Linked DNA regions of Homo sapiens. The protein of the gene in region 1 interacts with the protein of each later gene in a pairwise test. Each region holds a gene or a part of one and is shown in the gene's direction. Other genes may lie near its edges.

Region 1 (7,054 bases):
TTGCTTTTTTACTGTGTTGATACTATCCTTTGATGCACTAAAGTTTTACATTGAGGTGGTCCAATTTATCTAATTTTTTTTAATTCCCTGTGCTTTTGGTGCCACATCCAAGAAATCATTGCCAAATTCAGTGCCAAGAAGCTTTTCCCATATGTTTTCTCCTAAGAGTTTTATAGTTTTAGGTCTTATATTCAGGTCACAGGTCCATTTTGAGTTCGTGTTTGTATATGGTACAACCATATACAAAAAAGGTTGTATGGTAAACCATATACAGAAAGAAGGGCCCAACTTCATTCTTTTGCATGTGGATACCCAGTTTTCTCCACACCGTTTGTTGAAAAGACTGTTCTTTCCCCCACTGAATGGTCTTGCACCCTTGTCAAAACTCATTTGACCATATATTTGAATACTTATTTGTAGGCTGTCTATTCTATTCCATTTGTTTAAATGTCTGTCTTTATGCCTATACCTCACTATTTTGCTAAGTGTAGCTTTATAGTCAGTTTGGAAGTCGTGAAGCATGAGAACTCCAACTTTGTTCTATTTCACGATTGTTTTGGCTGCTCAGGATCTGATATTTTGTTTTGCGTTTGTAAAGAGGGGCAGACTTTTTTCCCCAGCATGCTGAAAGTTCCTTCATTTTACTAGTGCCTGAGAACCAGGCACTATAAAGTGGGAGTTCTGGTATTAGAAGCTATGTCACTTGGTTTGCAGTTAAGTTGTGTCTTCCCACGTTGCTACACAGAGTAGAATTTGTTTTTCCTAAGTCATAGGGTATAAAGGAAAGATCTTCACAAATACACATGCAGTCACTTTTCATGGTGTCTGCCTCTCTGATTTCTAATTGGTTAAAATTTCCTTTTGGTAAACATAGTTGTTAAGAAAAATTTAACTGCTACTAATTTTACCTGAGAAAACATTGGTTCTCATGCAGTGATCCTGATATCTGTATGATAAGTTGACCTTAAGATGAATCTAACACAACTAATATTGTGGAGTGGGACCCACTTGATGCTCTATTGTTTGAATCATTGATACCAAAACAGTAGTATAGTTAATACCACAGTTCTGATAATACATATTACCTGGCCTTAACTCCCCAGTTTGATCATTAATAGGAGAAATCAGGGAATGCTATTTGAATATCTGCTGTGTGGAATGGAAAGAAAAGTTCTACTCAAACCCATTAATTCTTGCTTCCCTTTTAAGTAAAGATTTGTCACTCTGTTATAGGATTATTTGATGACTTGGTAAGTCAGCATCAACCATCTTTTTTTTTTTTTTTTTGAGACAGAGTCTTGCTCTGTCATCCAGGCTGGAGTACAATGGCATGATCTCGGCTCACTGCAACCTCTGTCTCCCGGGTTCAAGCCATTCTCATGCCTCAGACTCCTGAGTAGCTGGGATTATAGGCATCCACAACCACGCCCAGCTAATTTTTATATTTGTAGTAGAGACAAGTTTTCACCATGTTGGCCAGGCTGGTCTCGAACTCCTGACCTCAAATGATCCACCCGCCTTGGCCTCCCAAAGTACTGGGATTGCAGGCGTGAGCCACCACGCTTGGCCTGCATCAATCTTTATGTTAAAATTTTCCCACTTTCATTCATGATATAATGCTTTCTACCTTCATATAGACACTCTGCTGCACCCCTTCAATAGCAATACTCTTAATGTGCTTTTGGCAATGAAACTAATTTTCAAACTGTAGTTGAAATAGATTATAAATTACAGTTTTCATGATAGTGTAGACTTAATCCACCTTAAATAGGATTTTAACAAATTAAAAGGAAACTGCCTTTAAATTGCCATATTTTAAGCTAGAAGGAGGATACTAAACATTCCCAACACAAAGAAATGACAGATGTTTGAGACAATGAATATGCTGATTACCCTGATCTGATCACTATGCATTATATGTATTGAAACATCACTATATAGCCCATGAATATGTACAATTATTATTTCTCAATTTAAAAATGATTTTTTTGTTTTTCGAGACAGTCTTGCTCTGTCACCCAGGCTGGAGCACAGTGGCGCAATACTGGCTCACTGCAACCTCCGCCTCCCTGGTTCAAGCAGTTCTCTCTGCCTCAGCCTCTCAGGTAGCTGGGATTACAGATGCCCACTACCATGCCTGGCTAATTTTTGTATTTTTTAGTAGAGACGGGGTTTCGCCATGTTGGCCAGGCTGGTCTTGAACTCTTGACTTCAGGTGATCCGCTCACCTTGGCCTCCCAAAGTGCTGGGATAACAGGTGTAAGCCACCACGCCTGGCCTAAAAATAATTTTTTTTTTTGAGATGAAGTCTTGCTTTGTCACCCAGGCTGGAGTGCAGTGGCTCGATCTCCGGCTCACTGCAACCTCCACCTCCCAGGTTCAAGCAATTCTCCTGCTTCAGCCTCCTGAGTAGCTGGGATTACAGGTGTGGGCCACCACGGCCGGCTAATTTTTGTATTTTTAGTAGAGATGAGGTTACGTCATGTTGGTCAGGCTGGTCTCGAACTCCTGACATCATGATCCGCCTGCCTTGGGCTCCCAAAGTGCTGGGATTACAGGTGTGAGCCACCGTGCCTGGCCAAATAATTTTTTTAATTGCCGTATTTTAAAAACTTTTTAAAGAGGAAAAAAGGTGCTCAAGCAAAGTACTTAAGTCAATTTTACTCTAATCAAATATTTTCATTGACAAAAAAGAAATTTAAGGTGTGGGCTGGGCACAGTGGCTCAAGCCTGTAATCCCAGCACTTTAGGAGGCCAAGGTGGGTGGATAACCTGAGGTCAGGAGTTTGAGAGCAGCATGGCCAACATGGTGAAACCCCATCTCTACTAAAGATACAAAAAAATTAGCCGGGCGTGGTGGCACGGGCCTGTAATCCCAGCTACTCAGGAGGCAGAGGCAGGAGGATCGTTTGAACCCAGGAGGCAGAGGTTGCAGTGAGCTGAGATGGTGCCACTGCACTCCAGGCCTGTTACCACTGCACTCCAGCTTGGGCAACAGAACAAGACTCCATAAAAAACAACAACAACGACAAAAAAAAAAAACAAAGAAATTTAGGATGTGATATACAAAAATCTTGGTAGCTACATTGAGTAATATAAGAATCAATGCTTTCTTATTTAAAACTGAGTGGCCCTCAAAATTGTTCAATGATTACCATTTTGTTTCTCAGATATCCCGATGTCTGTGGGTATAATCGATCCTAGGGCTAATCCAACTCAACTAAATACAGTGGAGTTCCTGTGGGACCCTGCAAAGAGGACATCTGTGTTTATTCAGGTAAGGCGTTGCAGATAGGGTTCCAGTTTTGAAGAGTATCTCTCTTACTATCAGTTTATTTCTTAAAGGATAAAACATGTTAACTTTGAAATCTTTACAGGGTTCTAGCCTGACTGTCAAGCCCAGGCTCTTTAACCTGTGCCTGAGAGCATTGAGGAGTTTCTGAATTGCTCTTCTAATACCCCAGTTTATTTATTTGTGTCTCCCAAAATTGCTTGGTAATGGCTGCATAATATTTCATTTCTTGGTTGTACCATAATTTACATAACAATTATTTGGCAGTTAGATTGGCATAATTTTTTTGGGGGGGGACAGTGTCTAGGCTTTGTCTCCCAATCTGGAGTGGAGTGGTGCAATCTCGGCTCACTACAACCTCTGCCTCCCAGTTCAAGCGATTCTCTTGCCTCAGCCTCACCAGTAGCTGGGACTAGAGGCGCATGTCACCATGCCTGGCTAATTTTTGTATTTTTGGTAGAGGTGGGATTTCGCCATGCTAGCCAGGCTGGTCTTGAACTCCTGACCTCAGGTGACCCACCCACCTTGGCCTCCCAAAGTGCTGGGATTATAGGTGTGAGCCACCATGCCCGGCCTTGATTGGCCTGATTTTTTACTATTATCTGTGATGTTATTTTGAACATATTTATACTTAAAATTTGATTTGCGTATCTGATTATGTTCTTTGGGTAGAGTCCTTGAAAATCCTTATTTGTAGTAATTATAGTAACCACTAGTTTATTAATACTTCACATGAAATAGTCACTATGTTAAGTAAACACTTTATATATATGATTTTAAGACTTTCAGCTATAATCTTGTGGAGTAGTCAGTCAGACAAGGTTCTTCTATTAAGATTCACCAGGCTGGGTGCCGTGGCTCACACCTGTAATCCCAGCACTTTGGGAGGCCGAGGCAGGCAGATCACCTGAGGTCAGGAGTTCGAGACCAGCCTGGCCAACATGGCGAAAACCTGTCTCTACTAAAAATGCAAAAATTAGCAGGGCGTGGTGGTGTGTGCCTGTAATCCCAGCTATTTGGGAGGCTGAGGCAGGAGAATTGCTTGAACCGGGGAGGTGGAGGTTGCGGTGAGCCGAGATTGTGCCATTGCATTCCAGCCTGGGTGACAAGAGCAAAACTTAGTCTCAAAAAAAAAAAAAAAAAAAATTCACCAATCTTAGACTTTATGCAGTAGCCAAGCAAACCTTTTTCTCCACTATTGCTGTGAACTTTCATATTTACTATGTTCCCAGACTGGGTAGTGACTCCTCTTTCTACAATCTTCCTTAAAATTGAGGAAACTTTAACTAACATAAATCATTTCTCTTTTGCTAGCTCTGTGTTCTTTGAAGCAGTTAATGAATTTAGTTCCTCACAGTAGCTTTTGTTAGCATTAGATCTGTACTTTTATTTTGTTTGCATTTGTAAAGCATTTTTCTATTTCCTCTATCAGATTGTAAGTTCTTCAAGATCAAAAAGAGGAAAAGTGTTTTTTGTAGGTATTCATAATGCCTGGTAAAGGTTTTGCTGTTAATAGTTGCTAAAAAAATACTGCCAACTGGTTTGGCTAGCTAGCGGTACTGAAGCCTTGCTGTTGTATTCTTTTCAGGTGCACTGTATTAGCACAGAGTTCACTATGAGGAAACATGGTGGAGAAAAGGGGGTGCCATTCCGAGTACAAATAGATACCTTCAAGGAGAATGAAAACGGGGAATATACTGAGCACTTACACTCGGCCAGCTGCCAGATCAAAGTTTTCAAGGTATTCCTGGGCAATGTGCTGGCCCTTGGATTCTTTTACCTTATCATTCTATTTTAACATTAGTTACCAAGTCAGAAAATCAACTTGTCTTTTTTTGAAAACTCACACACACGCAAAAAGTCTAAGCTAGAGTCATTGAAATAATTACCAAGATGCCTGGTAAAGAAATTTACATGGTCGTAGGATAATAGGAACTTGGAAAAGAGGGCTAGAGGCAAGAACATGGATTCTCATTGAAAGCTCTTAAAGCCTATTGAAGTTACAAGCTCTTGTAAAGCTCACAAAAATTGACTAGTTATGGTTATTTTCATACTTGATCTTTTCTTATTTGGTCTTATTTATTTATTTATTTATTTTTGAGACTGGGTTTCATTTTGTCACCCAGGCTGGAGTGCAGTGACGCAATCATAGTTTAACCTCCTGGGCTCAATTGATCTTCCTGCCTCAGCTTCCCCAGTAAGTGGGACTACAGGCATGTGCCACCACACCGGGCTAATTTTTGTATTTTTTATAGAGAGGGGGTCTTGCCATGTTGCCCAGGCTGGCCTTGAACTCCCGGGCTTAAGTTATCTGCCCTCCTTGGCCTCCCAAAGTACTGGGATTACAGGTGTAAGCCACTGTGCCCCAGCCAGGGTCCTGTTTATTTTTATCACATGAATAAATATGTTCTCATTGTAAGAGATTGAATAATACAGAGGTATTCATAGCAACACTGAAATTCTCCCTTTACTACTCTTACACTGACCCCCTCCACAACCTCTTCCCAGAGGAAACCACTGTCATAATTTCATAATTTCGTATGTGTTCTTCTACTTCCCTCTTCTTTTTTTTTTTTGAGTCGGAGTTTCACTCTGTCACCCAGGCTGGAATGCAGTGGTGCAGTGCCAGCTCACTGCAACCTCCGTCTCCTGGGTTCAAGCTGTTCTCACGCCTCAGCCTCCCCAGCACCTAGGACTACAGGCACACACCACCATGCCCAGCTAATTTTTTGTATTTTTAGTAGAGACAGGGTTTCGCCATGTTGGCCAGGCTGGTCTCGAACTCCTGACCTCAGGCAATCCGCCTGCCTCGGCCTCCCAAAGTGCTGGGATTACAGGCATGAGCCACTGCGCCCAGCTCTTCTAGTTCCTTCCTATGCTTTTATACACACACATACATAGCTATATACATATTTTCTTTGACACATAAATGGGATTATACTATTTGAAATGTTTTGAGGCTAGGCACGGTGGCTCATGCCTGTAATCCCAGCACTTTGGGAGGCCGAGGTGGGCGGATCACAAGGTCAGGAGTTTAAGACCAGCCTGACCAAAATGGTGAAACCCCGTCTCTACTAAAGATAAAAAATTAGCTGGGTGTGGTGGCGGACGCCTGTAGTCCCAGCTACTGGGGAGGCTGAGGCAGGAGAATAATTTGAACCCTGGAGGCGGAGGTTGCAGTGAGCCAAGATCTCGCCACCGCATTCCAGCTTGTGTGACAGGATGAGACTCCGTCTCAAAAAAAAAAGAAAGAAATGTTTTGAGACTTGATTTTTTTCAGTGAACTATGTGCTTTAGAGATCTTTCCATGTCAGTAGCTATAGATCTGATTCTTTTCAACTCCATCGAATATAAACATTTAAATTTCCTATTTTCAAACTTAAAGTGATGTGTCTTGCCTTTACATCACTGCACATACAATTTTGTTTCATACATGAATATTTAAGTTTTTGGAAGCAATATTTTGGGTTAAAAGGTGAGTACCTGAATTTAAAACAAAATATTTCTCATTTCAGCCCAAAGGTGCAGACAGAAAGCAAAAAACGGATAGGGAAAAAATGGAGAAACGAACACCTCATGAAAAGGAGAAATATCAGCCTTCCTATGAGACAACCATACTCACAGAGGTAAAAAGATTTCTTTTGGTGACAATTTCAGTTCATAATTTTTAATCTTAAAAATTCATCACTTCCAAACTGGTCAGAATTTACTTCTCCTAAGCCTTGAGGGACACAGTATCACATGGATTCTGTGTCCAGCGGC
Region 2 (4,569 bases), on another chromosome or scaffold:
TGTTCCAGAGAATCCAGGAGTCCTGCCAAAGTGGCACCAAGTGGCTGGTGGAGACCCAGGTGAAGGCCAGGAGGCGGAAGAGAGGAGCACAGAAGGGCAGTGGATCCCCAACTCACAGCCTGAGCCAGAAGAGCACCCGGCTGTCTGGAGCCGCCCCTGCCCACTCAGCCGCAGACCCCTGGGAGAAGGAGCATCACCGCCTCTCTGTCCGGATGGGCTCACATGCCCACCCATTACGGCGATCAAGGCGGGAGGCTGCCTTCCGGAGCCCCTACTCCTCAACAGAGCCCCTCTGCTCTCCCAGGCAAGTGGGATAGTGCTTCACCCCGGGGCTGGTGGCCTTTTAACCTGGGCACAATCCCTGCTGTCTGACCTCCCAGACACCAACTGGGCCCTAGGGGTTTCTTGGCACCCCCTGTGGCTACCTGGAGCCAGGGGCACCCTGAGCAGCGTCATATTGTATTATTATTATTCTTACTGTTAAATGTGTGTCCTGCTTTAGCAGATATCCAGTGCATGTATTTGCTCATCAGAAAATGAGAAAACAGGCTGGGCGCAGTGGCTCACACCTGTAATCCCAGCACTTTGGGAGGCCGAGGCGGGTGGATCACCTGAGGTCAGGAGTTGGAGACCAGTCTGGCCAACATGGTGAAACCTCATCTCTACTAAAAATACAAAATTGGCTGGGCGTGGTGGTGCACGCCTGTAATCCCAGCTCCTTGGGAGGTTGAGGCAGGAGAATCGCTTGAACTCGGGAGGTGGAAGTTGCATTGAGCTGAGATCGCGCCACTGCACTCCAGCCAGGGCCACAGAGCCAGACCCTGTCTCAAAAAAAAAAAAAAAAAAAAGAGAGAGAGAAAGAAAACAAAACAACAACTAGATTCCTAAGGATTGTATTTCAACTTTCCGGCTGAGTTCTAGGGGGAAATGGAGTGTGTTAGTTAAGGCTGCATAGTAGCTTAGGGCTGTTGAATTTTTCCCCAGATTTCTTTGAGGGCTAGCATCTTTCTTTAGCCTAATAGGAACTTTGAGCTGTAATTAAGGCAGGCTCTGTTTGTCCCATTTGACAGGTAAGGAAACGGAGGTCCGGAGGGGTTTGGTGATTAGCCTGAGGGTCATCCTGTAAGAAATAGAGGAGTAAAGGCTGGGGTCCAGATCATCTGGATGTTCTGCCCCACCGATCAAGCTGGCCTGCCTTGCAGAATCTTCTAGTTCTCAGACAGGCCCAGAAAGTGGCCTGGCTCAGGGCAGGGGGTGAAGCTCATCCCAATCGGCAGTCCCTGGCAGTTTCCTGGTCCCATCTCGGAGCTCTCAGGGAAGGCTGCCTAGCCGCTGCACCTGTGTTGTGGCAGGTAGTCACCAGGATGCATGTAAGTGACCAGGTGGCTCTTTGCAAACCTGTAAGCTAAAATAAGGCTTGTGTACACTTCAAAAATACTCTCCACATCTGTATTCTGACCCGGTTCCGCGTCCAGAGCCAGCAGGGGACCTGAGAAAATCCTTTAGGACCTTAGTTTCTCTGTCCGTAAAGGAAGAGCTGAGTTTAGTTCTGACACAATCACACTCACCCAAGCCTCCTAGTGAGCCCAGAAGCAAGTTTTGAAGCCACCTGGAGAGCTGAGGCTCAGTTTCCAAGTGGGGAAGCTGCAAAATCACTTGCCCGTGACCTTGGCCTCGTGGATCTTGATCTTCTCTCTGTTTGTCGCTCTGAGGTCACCTCCTGGAGTGAGGGTCTGGAGTGAAGCCCAGCCCGCCAGGGTCATCTGGGCCCACAGACCACACCCCGGTACCGGGTTGCAAGGGTCTCCTGCCGGGAGTTTCCAACTAGTCACTGGTGTGGCTTTTTCTTTCATGCAGCGAGTCTGACAGTGACCTAGAGCCTGTGGGGGCGGGAATTCAGCATCTCCAGAAGCTGTCCCAAGAGCTAGATGAAGCCATTATGGCGGAAGAGAGGTGAGTTGGCATCCCATGCTTCAAAGTGAAGGGGCCGGGAGGGCCCCTCCAGCCATCTTTGTAGGCAGGCGTTGGTTCTGCTCTGACCTGCTGTGTGACCCTGGCCAGTCTCTGCCCCTCTCTGGGCCTCAGTCTCCCTCATCTCAAACATGAGAAAGGACAAAATCCTGGACTGGGGTGATGGTAAAGGATGTAGCCTGAATGTGTGTGGTCTTCTGGGCCTTGGGACCCCATGTTTGTCCATCACTTGGAACCTCACGTGTGGCTGGTTCCTGAAAAACCTGCCCTTCCTCCAGAACTCTCCGTGGCTCGTCTGTGCCCTGCCTGCCTATGGAATTGGGAAAAGCAACCTGACTGCTATGGAGTTCCTGGTCTGTCTGCTCATGGCCCCATCCTGGGGGCAGGGCCTCGGTTGTGGACCTCCCCTAACTTGGGGCTGTTTCCCCATTCCACTTGTATAATGGCCATGATGGGCTCTAAGGCTGGGCCCTGCCAGCTCTATGTGTTGAGGGGCCATATTCCTACCACATTTCCGGGTCTGATCTTGTGTAGCTCAGGCTGGGAGGGCCCTCTCAGAGCCCACCACACCCAGTGGCATCAATCCCTCCCCTTCTCTCTAGTGGTGACATCGTCTCTCTCATTCATGACTGAGGAAGTGCCTGCAGGTAATGCCCACCTCCCAAGAGTCTTTCTCACTGTCCTTCTCCTCCATCTCATGCATGAGCAAGTTAAAGAAAAAGCCCACAGAGCTGATGGGCACAGCAGAGTAGGTAGTACCTACTTGCCGCTTGAAGCCAGAGCTGCTAACCTCACTGACCCCGTCATTAACAGCACGCTGGGGGCCCCAAGTAGCTACAGCCACCTTCCAGCACCCCCCACCCCGCAGTGAGCAGGGAAAGGCATCCCTACTTCTCCTACCTTGAGCACAGTGAAAAAGGCAGCTCTGTCTTGAAGGAAACAAGCCCTGTCTGACCGCCAAGGCTTCATACTCAAGGATGTCTATGCTTCCCCGTGAGCTTCCTGGAAAAAACCCCCGGGAGTCGTCAGTACCCCTGGGCCACTGCTAACAAGCACCTAACAAGGGGCCCAGAGCCCCCTGCTCCAGCCACATCTGGACCCATCAGTGACTGCCTGCCATAGCCTGAGAGTGTCTTGGGGAGACCTTGCAGAGGGGGAGAATTGTTCCTTCTGCTTTCCTAGGGGACTCTTGAGCTTAGAAACTCATCGTACACTTGACCTTGAGCCTTCTATTTGCCTCATCTATAACATGAAGTGCTAGCATCAGATATTTGAGAGCTCTTAGCTCTGTACCCGGGTGCCTGGTTTTTGGGGAGTCATCCGCAGAGTCACTCACCCACTGTGTTTCTGGTGCCAAGGCTCTTGAGGGCCCCACTCTCATCCCTCCTTTCCCTACCAGGGACTCGGAGGAAGGCATAGGAGATATTTCCAGGCTTACGACCCTGGGCTCACGGGTACCTATTTATATGCTCAGTGCAGAGCACTGTGGATGTGCCAGGAGGGGTAGCCCTGTTCAAGAGCAATTTCTGCCCTTTGTAAATTATTTAAGAAACCTGCTTTGTCATTTTATTAGAAAGAAACCAGCGTGTGACTTTCCTAGATAACACTGCTTTCTCATAATAAAGACTATTTGCATTTGACATCTGTTCCCTTTCACCGGCAACCTCCAACCTCCCCCGCCCTCCCACACCACTCTGGGCTATAGATTTGTAATTTGTGGTTTGGGGTCTGGCCCTCATCCACCTCTGCTCCGAGCCAGTCTGCCCCCAATCCCACCCCAGGGAGAACATGTAGAAAGGGAAAGGTTTCTCAACTTAGTTCAGACCAAAACACATTGTAAAGGCAAAGAAGGTTTTTATTTAAGTGACAACATTTGAGAGCTAAAAACCAGCTCACATCAAAATCAAGACCCAGTTGTAAAAATCTTTTAACTCCATAATGCTGTTTTTGTCTTGTTAGAAATCTGATATCTTACATTAGCGTTTCTAACGGATTTTGTACAAGGCAGCCATAAGGAATATAATAAACCTTTTTCACCACAGAACCATCTGTCACAGATAATACTGAAAGTTACACACTTAGGAACAGTCAGACCACAGACAAGGTCAGACTGGCTGCCACCACCAAGTAAACAACTAGAAAAGGACAGCGGGGTCCAAGGGTGGGGGTCCCTGTGCACGAGTCGCCCTCCTCTGGCCTGCCCCCCCTCGGGTCACCTGTTTCTCCTTTGCCCCAAAGAGGGTGGAGTCAAATGCAGATTTTCCTCCCAACTGCCTGTTAGTGTCTCAACAAGGAGAGCAGAGCCCAGGTCAGGCCTCACTGCTTGGACTTAACCCTAACTATGATTTTTACGAAGGTTTCCCCCAAGCCCGGAAGGAAAGGAAGGAGGGAATGTTTCTTTTGGCTGAGCCAAAAGACAATAGGTTTCCAGGGCACTTGGCACCCAAACCCCCCCCCCCCGCCCGCCGATGGGATTCGGTGGGAAAGTTGGTTGTTTAAGGCGGGGTCAGGGCACCCCTCCCGGGGCTGCACCTGGGCTAGGGGGGAGAGTGAGGATGCAGAGGACCCACGTGCCTCATGAAAGACTCCAGGGCACAG
Region 3 (5,379 bases), on another chromosome or scaffold:
GTGGCGGCTAGGCTGCCAGTTCTCACCAGGATTGCAGGCTCTTGGCTTTCTAGTCAGCTGAGGGGAGCAGGGATGGGAATAGGGCAAATGATAATTCCATAGCACTTGCTGTTCCTAAGAGATTCAGCAGCTTTTCGTGAATAAACGCTCCTCAGATTGCCGCAAGACTTTGGTTAATTTCCAGAATTCTAGAAAAATTGAGGTTAACAGGTTTTTTACCAGTGTTTTCATTGATTATATGAGTAGAGATTCTTTGGAGGTCCTTCCCATGCCAGTTTTGCTATGTCACTCTACAAGTGCTTTTTTGCCATGTTTTTAAAAGATAATAAGTTGAATTCATGACTTCCAAGGACCCCTCCCATTCTAGAGTGTTCAGTATTAATAGGTCTCATTCCCCAGCCATCCTAGGTGATAGAATTTACTGTACCATTTTAAAAATAAATGTGATTGTTTAAGATAAACTGAAATAGACTTTAAACAGTGCCAAGATATGAAACATGATAAACTGTACTTAATTATCAACCTCTGCCTTGTTTTATTCACAGATTTGAAAAGGAAACATTACTTTTCTGGCACAGTTTCTTAGCTTAAAATGAATTAGTCTAAAGAGGTAGGAGATCTTAAGCCAATATAGATACAATTTAAGCCCCAGAGACTATTGAAAGGGTAAAAATCAAGTAATTGACTGACAGCATTTCACAGAGTTGAATCATCGGCATATATATTTATTGAATGGCTTACTTTTTTGAATAACTAATACATTGTTATTAACTATAGTCACCACGTTGTATTGTAAACCTCTTGAACTTATTCCTCCTAACTGAAATTTTGTATCCTTGAATGGTTTACCTCTAAATCTTTTTTTTTTTTGAGACAAGGTCTCCCTCTGTTGCCCAGGCTGGAGTCCAGTGGGGCGATCTCAGCTCACTGCAACCTCTGCCTCCCGGGTTCAAGCAATTCTCATGTCTCAGCCTCCCGAGTAGCTGGGATTTCAGGCATGCACCACCATGCCCAGCTAATTTTTGTATTTTTAGTAGAGACAGTGTTTCACCATGATGGCCAGACTGGTCTCAAACTCTAAACCTCAAGTGATCTGCCCGCCTTGGCCTCCCAACGTGCTGGGATTACAGGCATGAGCCCCCACACCCAGCCAGTTTGCCTCTAATTCTGAAATCTATTATAATTATTATTACTAAAATATTAATATATTCATGCTAATTATTCACTAAAAGTCCATTTTTGTACTAAGTACCGAGCACATAGGTAAGGAATCAGCTAAACATGATCCAAGGCTGTTTTATATCAATTTCTTCAAAGATAGATGTGAGAAAATAGTGCCACATTATTTGGTAATGATGTTAAATGAAGTTGCCATGCAAATTAATTTTCCAGATGTCTGAAGCCAAACCTTTTTAACTTAACAAATTTTGAGGTGACTCTTCCCGAACTATGTAAAATATTTCTCTGCTTCATCAGGAAGCTAATGATCTAATGTCTCAGGAGCAAGTAATCATTTTGGACAGTTATCTCATTGTCCTGTAAAACAGTAGCAGCCACCTTGCTCTGTGCAGAAGTACTCACTGGTGACATAATGCTGTGCTTCTGGTGTTTTCATACTCTTTCATGAAGTGTTGTGCCTCGTACTTTTCCATTAATATCTGCTAATCATAGATTTTCCATCTATTTTTAATTTGATCTTTCTACTTTCTAATCTGTGAACTGACACATCAGACAAGAGATTGTACCTACTGGGTTCTTAACATGTATGAGGCACTATTCTAAGTGTTAAAATGTGTCTGTGCATTTAATCCTCCCAACATCTCAGACAGGTAAGCACTATTATCATCTATGTTTTTAGACAAGAAAACTGAAGCACAGAGAGATTAAGTAACTTGCCCCAAATGACATAGCAGTTCATGATCTTAACCATTATACTATACCGTTGAAGTGGCATCGTTCCTCTGGGGTAATACCCAAGGTTAGTTGTCTTAGGCCAAGGAAATCAAGGATGCGAACACACAAGGAGTGAGGTTAAGAGTGGAGGTTTAATAGGCACAAGAAAGAGAAGAACTCTCTCCTGCAGAGAGGGTTCCCGAGTGGGTTTTCCGGTCCACAGCAAAATGCAATAGGTTTTAAAGATGAGCTTGAGGAGGCGGAGTCTGATTTACACAGGGCACGAAAGATTGGTCAGATCAGGTGTACCATTCGCATAGTGCATGAAAATCTGGCCACCCCCCACCCTAATCTTTTATTGTGCAGATGGTCCTCTACTTGGCTGGCACCATATTACCTGTTTCTTTACTGTATACACAAAGACAAGGGACGATGGACCCTCCATGTTGAACATACGTGGCCCCCAGGTAGCCCTTTTCTGTTGGCACAGCTGCTGGCATTCACCTGTGCAAGCTTCCAGCTTGCTTGTCTATGTCTACAGCTCAATTTTTCAGGCAGTTCTATTAATGATTTTGGAGCTGCTTTTTGTTAAAAGGGAAATTCCACCGAGGACTCTTTTACCCTCACTATCTGCCTAAATAATTTCTATCTCCTGTATCACTGTGTCATATAAAGATGCTTATTAAAACAACACATAAACCTAAGAGTGAATGAGCTCTTATAGAATACTTGAGTGGAACTCTTTGTAAAATACTTAAATTTTGGTGAGTTGTCTTTGTGATGTCTATGTTAGTTTCCCACAGAATGTATGTCTATGTCTGTGTTTGTGCAAATTTCTTGTGTTTGTATCAAATAGGTTAAGGCGGCCAGAGAAGCGACTTTACCAAACCGGTGTTAAGTATTATTAAATCGTAAACATTGTGTGCCAGATCTGGCCTAATGCCTTTTTATGTGTTTGAAGTTTCACTGAAACCCAGCCACATTCATTCATTCACTTACCATCTATGGCTGCTTTCTTGTGACAGTGGCAGGGATGAGTAGTTGCCATAGAGACCATATGGCCCACAGAGCCCAAAATATTTACTATCTGTCTCTCTAAAAAAAGAAAACAAGTTTGTCAACCCCTGCTTTAGATGTTGGGTTTTATGTCAGTGGGCCTCAATTTCAGGTTTTGAGAAAGACAAAAGAAGGGGTTGGCTCATTGGAATCAGCTGGACAGGCTTTTCAAAAGCTACACACCTCCCTCTCTCCTTCTTCTCATCAGCTTTCCCTGAGAACCACTGTCTTAAACTTTATGATCCCAGTTAGTCTGATTTCATTAACTGATACAGATTGTTTGCTTTCATTAACTATTTTTGGCCTTCTGTAACATATCTAAAGTAATGTTGACCATGTATTTCTTTTACAGGGTTGTGGGAAGAAAATGTATTCCTTTTTGAGAGGAACCAAACAACTGCAGGTGCTGAGGTTTCTGGGAATCTCCATTGGGGTGACACAAATCCTGGCCATGATTCTCACCATTACTCTGCTCTGGGCTCTGTATTATGATAGAAGGGAGCCGGGGACAGACCAAATGATGTCCTTGAAGAATGACAACTCTCAGCACCTGTCATGTCCCTCAGTAGAACTGTTGAAACCAAGCCTGTCAAGAATCTTTGAACACACATCCATGGCAAACAGCTTTAATACACACTTTGAGATGGAGGAGTTATAAAAAGAAATGTCACAGAAGAAAACCACAAACTTGTTTTACTGGACTTGTGAATTTTTGAGTACATACTATGTGTTTCAGAAATATGTAGAAATAAAAATGTTGCCATAAAATAACACCTAAGCATATACTATTCTATGCTTTAAAATGAGGATGGAAAAGTTTCATGTCATAAGTCACCACCTGGACAATAATTGATGCCCTTAAAATGCTGAAGACAGATGTCATACCCACTGTGTAGCCTGTGTATGACTTTTACTGAACACAGTTATGTTTTGAGGCAGCATGGTTTGATTAGCATTTCCGCATCCATGCAAACGAGTCACATATGGTGGGACTGGAGCCATAGTAAAGGTTGATTTACTTCTACCAACTAGTATATAAAGTACTAATTAAATGCTAACATAGGAAGTTAGAAAATACTAATAACTTTTATTACTCAGCGATCTATTCTTCTGATGCTAAATAAATTATATATCAGAAAACTTTCAATATTGGTGACTACCTAAATGTGATTTTTGCTGGTTACTAAAATATTCTTACCACTTAAAAGAGCAAGCTAACACATTGTCTTAAGCTGATCAGGGATTTTTTGTATATAAGTCTGTGTTAAATCTGTATAATTCAGTCGATTTCAGTTCTGATAATGTTAAGAATAACCATTATGAAAAGGAAAATTTGTCCTGTATAGCATCATTATTTTTAGCCTTTCCTGTTAATAAAGCTTTACTATTCTGTCCTGGGCTTATATTACACATATAACTGTTATTTAAATACTTAACCACTAATTTTGAAAATTACCAGTGTGATACATAGGAATCATTATTCAGAATGTAGTCTGGTCTTTAGGAAGTATTAATAAGAAAATTTGCACATAACTTAGTTGATTCAGAAAGGACTTGTATGCTGTTTTTCTCCCAAATGAAGACTCTTTTTGACACTAAACACTTTTTAAAAAGCTTATCTTTGCCTTCTCCAAACAAGAAGCAATAGTCTCCAAGTCAATATAAATTCTACAGAAAATAGTGTTCTTTTTCTCCAGAAAAATGCTTGTGAGAATCATTAAAACATGTGACAATTTAGAGATTCTTTGTTTTATTTCACTGATTAATATACTGTGGCAAATTACACAGATTATTAAATTTTTTTACAAGAGTATAGTATATTTATTTGAAATGGGAAAAGTGCATTTTACTGTATTTTGTGTATTTTGTTTATTTCTCAGAATATGGAAAGAAAATTAAAATGTGTCAATAAATATTTTCTAGAGAGTAATGATTTGTCTCTGCCTACTTTTTAATACATTACAAGCACTTATGCCACTTGAGAAGATTGTCAAGGGGAGAAAAACATGAGAAAGAATGATTGCATAAAGTATTAATATTGATTTCCAAACTCCGGAATGGACCTATAAGAATATGTATTTTCACTGAGAAGAGTCAAAAAGATGCCCATTTTTCACTTTTGCTTTTTACCTAAATGTTAAATAATATACTTGTTTGAGATAATATAAAAATATGCCCATTTGTGTTCATCTTTTCAATGTTTGCATATCACAGTTTTATAACTTATTAATTTTTAAGAGACTATGAGTCTCTTAGTTAATTTCAAATTCTCTTCAAATGAGTTAAGGAATATAATCCTTGAAATTGACTGCCATGTTTAAAATCTTCCATAGATTTTAATGAAAACTGAGTACATTACTTGTTCAATCAGAGCCAAAAGCATCCCTTTTAATAACTTCCTCAATACCCCAAATCCCTGTAATTTCACCT
Region 4 (7,000 bases), on another chromosome or scaffold:
TCTCCCAATGCTATCCCTCCCCCCTCCCCCGACCCCACCACAGTCCCCAGAGTGTGATATTCCCCTTCCTGTGTCCATGTGATCTCATTGTTCAATTCCCACCTATGAGTGAGAATATGCGGTGTTTGGTTTTTTGTTCTTGCGATAGTTTACTGAGAATGATGGTTTCCAATTTCATCCATGTCCCTACAAAGGACATGAACTCATCATTTTTTATGGCTGCATAGTATTCCATGGTGTATATGTGCCACATTTTCTTAATCCAGTCTATCATTGTTGGACATTTGGGTTGGTTCCAAGTCTTTGCTATTGTGAATAGTGCCTCAATAAACATACGTGTGCATGTGTCTTTATAGCAGCATGATTTATAGTCCTTTGGGTATATACCCAGTAATGGGATGGCTGGGTCAAATGGTATTTCTAGTTCTAGATCCCTGAGGAATCGCCACACTGACTTCCACAATGGTTGAACTAGTTTACAGTCCCACCAACAGTGTAAAAGTGTTCCTATTTCTCCACATCCTCTCCAGCACCTGTTGTTTCCTGACTTTTTAATGATTGCCATTCTAACTGGTGTGAGATGATATCTCATAGTGGTTTTGATTTGCATTTCTCTGATGGCCAGTGATGATGAGCATTTCTTCATGTGTTTTTTGGCTGCATAAATGTCTTCTTTTGAGAAGTGTCTGTTCATGTCCTTCGCCCACTTTTTGATGGGGTTGTTTGTTTTTTTCTTGTAAATTTGTTTGAGTTCATTGTAGATTCTGGATATTAGCCCTTTGTCAGATGAGTAGGTTGCGAAAATTTTCTCCCATGTTGTAGGTTGCCTGTTCACTCTGATGGTAGTTTCTTTTGCTGTGCAGAAGCTCTTTAGTTTAATTAGATCCCATTTGTCAATTTTGGCTTTTGTTGCCATTGCTTTTGGTGTTTTGGACATGAAGTCCTTGCCCACGCCTATGTCCTGAATGGTAATGCCTAGGTTTTCTTCTAGGGTTTTTATGGTTTTAGGTCTAACGTTTAAATCTTTAATCCATCTTGAATTGATTTTTGTATAAGGTGTAAGGAAGGGATCCAGTTTCAGCTTTCTACATATGGCTAGCCAGTTTTCCCAGCACCATTTATTAAATAAGGAATCCTTTCCCCATTGCTTGTTTTTCTCAGGTTTGTCAAAGATCAGATAGTTGTAGATATGCGGCATTATTTCTGAGGGCTCTGTTCTGTTCCATTGATCTATATCTCTGTTTTGGTACCAGTACCATGCTGTTTTGGTTACTGTAGCCTTGTAGTATAGTTTGAAGTCAGGTAGTGTGATGCCTCCAGCTTTGTTCTTTTGGCTTAGGATTGACTTGGCGATGCGGGCTCTTTTTTGGTTCCATATGAACTTTAGTTTTTTCCAATGCTGTGAAGAAAGTCATTGGTAGCTTGATGGGGATGGCATTGAATCTGTAAATTACCTTGGGCAGTATGGCCATTTTCACGATATTGATTCTTCCTACCCATGAGCATGGAATGTTCTTCCATTTGTTTGTGTCCTCTTTTATTTCCTTGAGCAGTGGTTTGTAGTTCTCCTTGAAGAGGTCCTTCACATCCCTTATAAGTTGGATTCCTAGGTATTTTATTCTCTTTGAAGCAATTGTGAATGGGAGTTCACTCATGATTTGGCTCTCTGTTTGTCTGTTGTTGGTGTATAAGAATGCTTGTGATTTTTGTACATTGATTTTGTATCCTGAGACTTTGCTGAAGTTGCTTATCAGCTTAAGGAGATTTTGGGCTGAGACGATGGGGTTTTTGCGGTTTTGAAGTTTCAAATCTCTCCAGTAAAATGAAACACAGGTATGCCAAGCAAACTTTTGAAATGTTTTCTCTTGAATTACCGGAGAAGATGCAGCCTTGACAAGTTTTATTTAAGAGGCTTGGAAGGAAAAAAAGCAAAAGGAAGCTACCTCTCTGAAGATCCTGAGAGAGCAGAGTCTCCTCTTGCTGCCGTCCCCTGAGGCGCCTTGGCAGGCGGCCACACTGGATCTCCGACACGCGCAGGACACTGCCTGTCATCCCAGCCCAGCCCCCATGCCCACTCTCCCAAGAATTGTGCAACAGGGCCTTTGTAACCTGAGGCCTGTGAAGTCTGTGGAGGAATGTGACCCAGAGCCAAGGGGCGTTGGTGCCACCAGGGCTGAGAAGGAGCTCTCCTGCTGTTTACCCTGCTATCCCATGGGAACCTCAGAAGGGGGAAGGTTATGCTCTAAAATGCATGGGGAGTCAAGTCCTTGGCACAGCTGTGAAGCAAGCACTCTAGTTAGTGTCTTTTCCCCTCATCTTTGCTGACCTCCGGAGGCATGCTTCATGCTGCTCCAGAGAGTAGAACCCAATGTGCTTTAATTTTTATTGTATTTGTATAAATATATGGGGTACAAGTGCAATTTTTAAAAATGCATAGATTGTGTAGTGGTCAAGTTTGGGCTTTTAGGATACCCATCACCTGATCCCCTCATCCTCCTTTCAAGCCACTCCTCGTCCTCCTCCTCTTAATTGTGTCTCCTACTGAAAGCTACAAGTTGTGGTCCCATTATTCCAATGCCCTGTAAGGGTAAAGGGTATCCTGCTGTCTGGGGAGCAGGGATCCATATTAAATGTGATGTGGATGGTAGAGTGCCAGGCACTGGTGGCAGGACAGCCCCGGAAATCTTTGAGATTCATTGATTTACAAAACCAGCTTCCTGCCTCCTCTCCTCACCTCTTCCATAGACATCTTCCTCCAATATGACAAGTACACAATCTGGCCACCATAATACTTGGGGTTGTCCCGTCTCTTCTGCCTGGGGAAAATGTTACGAGCTGAGTCATGAATACTGTCCTTTTAAGTTACCCAAACATCATGATGGCCACACAAATGGAGCTCTAACCAAAAGGAAGTGAAAGATTCACTCTCAGTCTTGCCATTTAAGTGGTGTGGAGTACTATGGCATGTAATTCACTATAAATGAAAGTTCCACATTTTTATATTACCAATATTGTTGTCACAAAAGGTGGTCTCAGGAAAACAGACGTTTTAGCCAGTTGAGAAGACAACTTACTTGGCAACTAGAAGACCAGTATTTTCGTCCTTTCAAGTATATTTAGAATGCAAAATCATTATTATTACGAGAGGGAAAGCCTTTTTTTAATGTTAGGATATGTTCCTCTGCATGGTAGGAACTGACGCTATCTCCCTCCCCGCATCAAGCTTATCTCCTCTCATACTATGTCCTTTCAAGGAGGTTGTTTTCCACACTCCTTTCTATGCCAAATGAATTCAATGTCAGTTTCAATCCCGTTTGTATTTTTGAAAACTTAATATGCACCTGGGACTGTACTAGGCACTGTGACAACAGCAAAATAAAATGTTTGACATAAGTTGGGCTCTTTAAGAGTTAAGAATTTAGTTGAGACAAGATGTACACCTGCAAAGAGTTCAAAAGCAAAGAGGAAACTACAAAACTATGTGAAAAATGTGCGCACTGTGAACTTCAAAGTGCCCCAGGGGCTCAGAGCGAAGAAGCAGTGTTGTCTGGAGTGTTCAGGTTGCTCATGAGGGCAGGTCAGCACTGGGACTTGGGAGGAATCTTGAAAGGAAGAGAAACAGACTATGACTGATTGACACAAACTTAGGGAGAAAAACAATTTCCTAGTGAAAATTTTGGCCCCGGCACAACCGCTCTTCTCTTACTCACCGGCGCTCATGTCCACTCTACCTGCGCTTTGACAACTCATTCTTGGCGTGCAAAGCAAATAATTCACTTTGCTTCATTGGGATATGAAAAAGAGGAGTCATGGAAACACAAGGACACCAGGAAGAATAAAATGAACTCTAACAGGTGGTTTCTGTGAACCGCCCTGCATGCTGAAACCAGGGCTGTGTCTGATTTTAATTAGGCACGAGGGCTTCTAGAGCCTACACCCTGAAGTCAACATGTTCCAAAACTAATTCATTATCTTTGGCAAACCTGTTCCCCCTTTGTGATTCCCACCTCAGCCAACGGGCCTCACCATATTCCCAGTTTCTCTGGCGAGGATCTCAGGTCCCCTCTGATCCCCGAGTCACTCTCTACTGCTGCATTCGGTCATTGAACATTGAGCCTAGGGGGTTGGATCTCCACATCTTTCCCGAACCCATCACCTCAGCCAGTTCTTCCTGCTGCCACCCTGGTCTGGGCCCTCATCTCCTCATCTTCCTCTAAGATCACTCATCTCTCCAACCTCATTTCTCTGCACTCGTTGGCCACGCCTTTCTAAAATAGAAACCGGCACTCCCCAGTTTCAAGTTTTTCCCGTTGTTTATAAAACGAGGACTAAACTCCTTTGCTTGGTTTTCAAGGCCTCTCACCTTCTCTAGCTTCACTGGACCAAGCCTCTCCCCTTGGCTACCCATTTATCCATTCTTCCCCACCTCTTATGCACCAGGTAGATCTGTCTGCCTTCAATTTTCCAGCTTGCCCAATACTTTTCTTGCCTCCATGGTCTTGCTCATGCAATTTCTTCAGCTTTTCTGATAGTTGAACTCCTAATCCGGCCTCCTCCAGGATTCCTGCTTCACATGGACCACTGCTTTCCTCTCTCTGCTTCCTACCTTCATCATTTGTGACATTCTCCTGACATTTAAAAAATTTGACCCTTTGCGCTGAAGGAGTGAGCCAGGTGGGATTGGGAGACCAGGGCAAAGGGAGTAGAAGAATGTTTTGAGACAGGGAACAGCATGTGTAAAGACTCAGAGGACAGAGACAATGGTGTATTCATGGAGCTAAACAGTGTATAGTAGTTAGTAGAAACTGGGTTTGAGTGGACAGGATGGCATTGGGAAGAAGTGGCACTGGAGGAAGAGGCAGGGGCAAGTCCGTGGGGCTGGCCCTGCTAAGAAGCTGGACTTTTAGCTAAAGATCAATGGGCAAGTTTGAAGAGTTATCAGCAGGGCAGTGATGAGATAACATTTGCATTTGAAAGGGATGTAGTATATGGGGACCAGAGAAAGACTGGAGAAAGGACTGTCAGTTAGGAGGCTGGCAGGAGATAATAAGCTTGGTCAAGGGTAGTGACCAAGTTCACTACCTCTATTCAAGAAACAGAGGAAGAGAGTGGACTTTAGAGCTTTAGAAAGGAGATGTGATTAGGCCTGGTTAATTGATCGGCCTGGTTTAAATGGAGAGGGTGAGTGAAAGGAGACACCTGGGTTTCTGGCATGGCCCAGAAATGAAACTATCCATGCCACAGTATCACTTCCTGCTGATGCCCTCTAAAGAGACTGGATCTCTCTCCCTTCTCAGAGCTGAAACTTTTGACAGTGAGGGTGGGGGTGGTCGAGAGCCCCTCAGACATTTGCTTTGGAGAAGACACTTCCAGTTGATATGGGGCCTGGATCTCATTCATTTGTTACAGTCTCCAGGGCAACTAGTTATTCAATAAACCTTGGTGAATAAACAACTGTGCCTATAAATACTGTTCCTGGTAGTCTTCCTGTTATGTTTTCTAAAAAATATTGGGCATTTTATCTTTTATTGCCCTTCATAGTGTAAATGTAATGGAGCCTGTCTTCCTCCCCAACTCAGATTTCAGTTGAAAGTCTTCATCAGGAGGCGAGTCTTCTGCCAGCCGGGTTATTTGATAGACTTCGTAGTCTTCATGGTGCTCCTTGATGGCTATTTAATGTCTGGTAGCTCAGAGTCATGACCAGAAAATCAACTGTGTCCTTTGACACCTTCCTGGGCCAATGTCCATTTCCTACATCTTCTTTTCTCTTCAAAGTCATGGCCTGTACAACAAAAGATTAAAATCCCCTGGAGACCTATGTCCTTTATTCCTACCTAGAACCTTAAAGGAACTAAACATACCATTTCTTCTGACTGCATCTTTTCTTATGAATCATTTCAAGGCATACTCATGTTGTCAGAAAGTAGTTCATCTCCAGAATCATGGGTCACAATGGACTTGCTGTGTCCTTCCCCTGCCACCACTGCCCCCTTCCTCTACTGGTAAGCCCACCTGCTAGAGTGGGGAGATCTCCTTCTCTTCCTCCTCCACCTGCAGTATGTGCTTTTGTGGCATGTTCTTTTTTTTTCTTTTCTTTTTTCTGAGACAGTGTCTTGCTCTGTCACTCAGGCTGGATTGCAGTGGCAAGATCTCAGCTCACTGCAACCTCTGCCTCCCAGGTTCTAGCGTTTCTTGTGCCTCAGCCTCCCGAGTAGCTGAGATTACAGGTGCCCACCACCATGCCCTGCTAATTTTTGTATTTTTCATAGAGATGGGGTTTCACCATGTTGGCCAGGCTGGTCTTGAACTCCTGACCTCAAGAGATCTGCCTACCTCGTCCTCCCAAAGTGCTGAAATTACAGGCATGAATCTTTCCTTATTCACATCTTGAGGCTGCTCACAGTCCTCCCTTGTGTCTGGAATCTCATAGTGATGGCTTTCTCCTGGGCTTATGCTCGTGAGAGCCCCTCACCACCTCTATAAGTTGCAGAAGCAATCATTGAGCACTTTCTTCAGCCACTTTAGCAGACAGTCAGGTTTGCATATCAGTGATTTCATCATAACTAGGGAATGGTAAAATCATAGTACAATTAATATGATTCTTTAATTTTAAAGAACTATACAAATAGAAGGTAGTTATCAATATAAATTTAAAAATGTCTTTCCCAGAGTTTAAGGTAATGATATTGCCACAATTGATACACACATATGTTATTATAAATGCTCATTTTAGAAGATGAAATATACCATCTGAATGGCATACAAATAATAAGTGCTACTTAGGTCATTATTGGCATTTCCTCCTACCTCTTAAACAACATAATTTCAATCAGCTTTACATTTAGACATCATTTCTTGCTTAGTTTTGACATAACAGAATTAGCAATCATTAAAAGCAACCTATTTTTTTTAAGCACCTACTGTATTAGTCAGGGTTCTTCAGAGAAGCAGCACCAGTAGGAGAGATGGATATATGTGTGTAATGTATGCATTTTGTATA

The links.
Region 2: the proteins of TFCP2 (region 1) and PIMREG interact in binary tests that used the Homo sapiens proteins (3 or more experiments, as listed by UniProt).
Region 3: the proteins of TFCP2 (region 1) and TSPAN12 interact in binary tests that used the Homo sapiens proteins (3 or more experiments, as listed by UniProt).
Region 4: the proteins of TFCP2 (region 1) and DNAJC5B interact in binary tests that used the Homo sapiens proteins (3 or more experiments, as listed by UniProt).

What each region holds. Positions count from the first base shown.
Region 1 is NC_000012.12:51,107,100-51,114,153, reverse strand, and holds part of TFCP2 (alpha-globin transcription factor CP2), read left to right. Parts: intron 1-3,170; coding exon 3,171-3,277; intron 3,278-4,880; coding exon 4,881-5,033; intron 5,034-6,807; coding exon 6,808-6,918; intron 6,919-7,054.
Region 2 is NC_000017.11:6,447,455-6,452,023, forward strand, and holds the end of PIMREG (protein PIMREG), read left to right. Parts: intron 1-8; coding exon 9-304; intron 305-1,568; exon of another isoform or gene 1,569-1,857; coding exon 1,858-1,953; intron 1,954-2,249; coding exon of another isoform or gene 2,250-2,307; exon of another isoform or gene 2,308-2,573; coding exon 2,574-2,604; 3' UTR 2,605-2,618; exon of another isoform or gene 2,619-2,907; coding exon of another isoform or gene 2,908-2,968; 3' UTR 2,969-4,015; downstream 4,016-4,569. UniProt on the Homo sapiens protein: During mitosis, may play a role in the control of metaphase-to-anaphase transition.
Region 3 is NC_000007.14:120,786,820-120,792,198, reverse strand, and holds the end of TSPAN12 (tetraspanin-12), read left to right. Parts: intron 1-3,301; coding exon 3,302-3,607; 3' UTR 3,608-4,879; downstream 4,880-5,379. UniProt on the Homo sapiens protein: Regulator of cell surface receptor signal transduction. Plays a central role in retinal vascularization by regulating norrin (NDP) signal transduction.
Region 4 is NC_000008.11:66,024,553-66,031,552, forward strand, and holds part of DNAJC5B (dnaJ homolog subfamily C member 5B), read left to right. Parts: intron 1-7,000.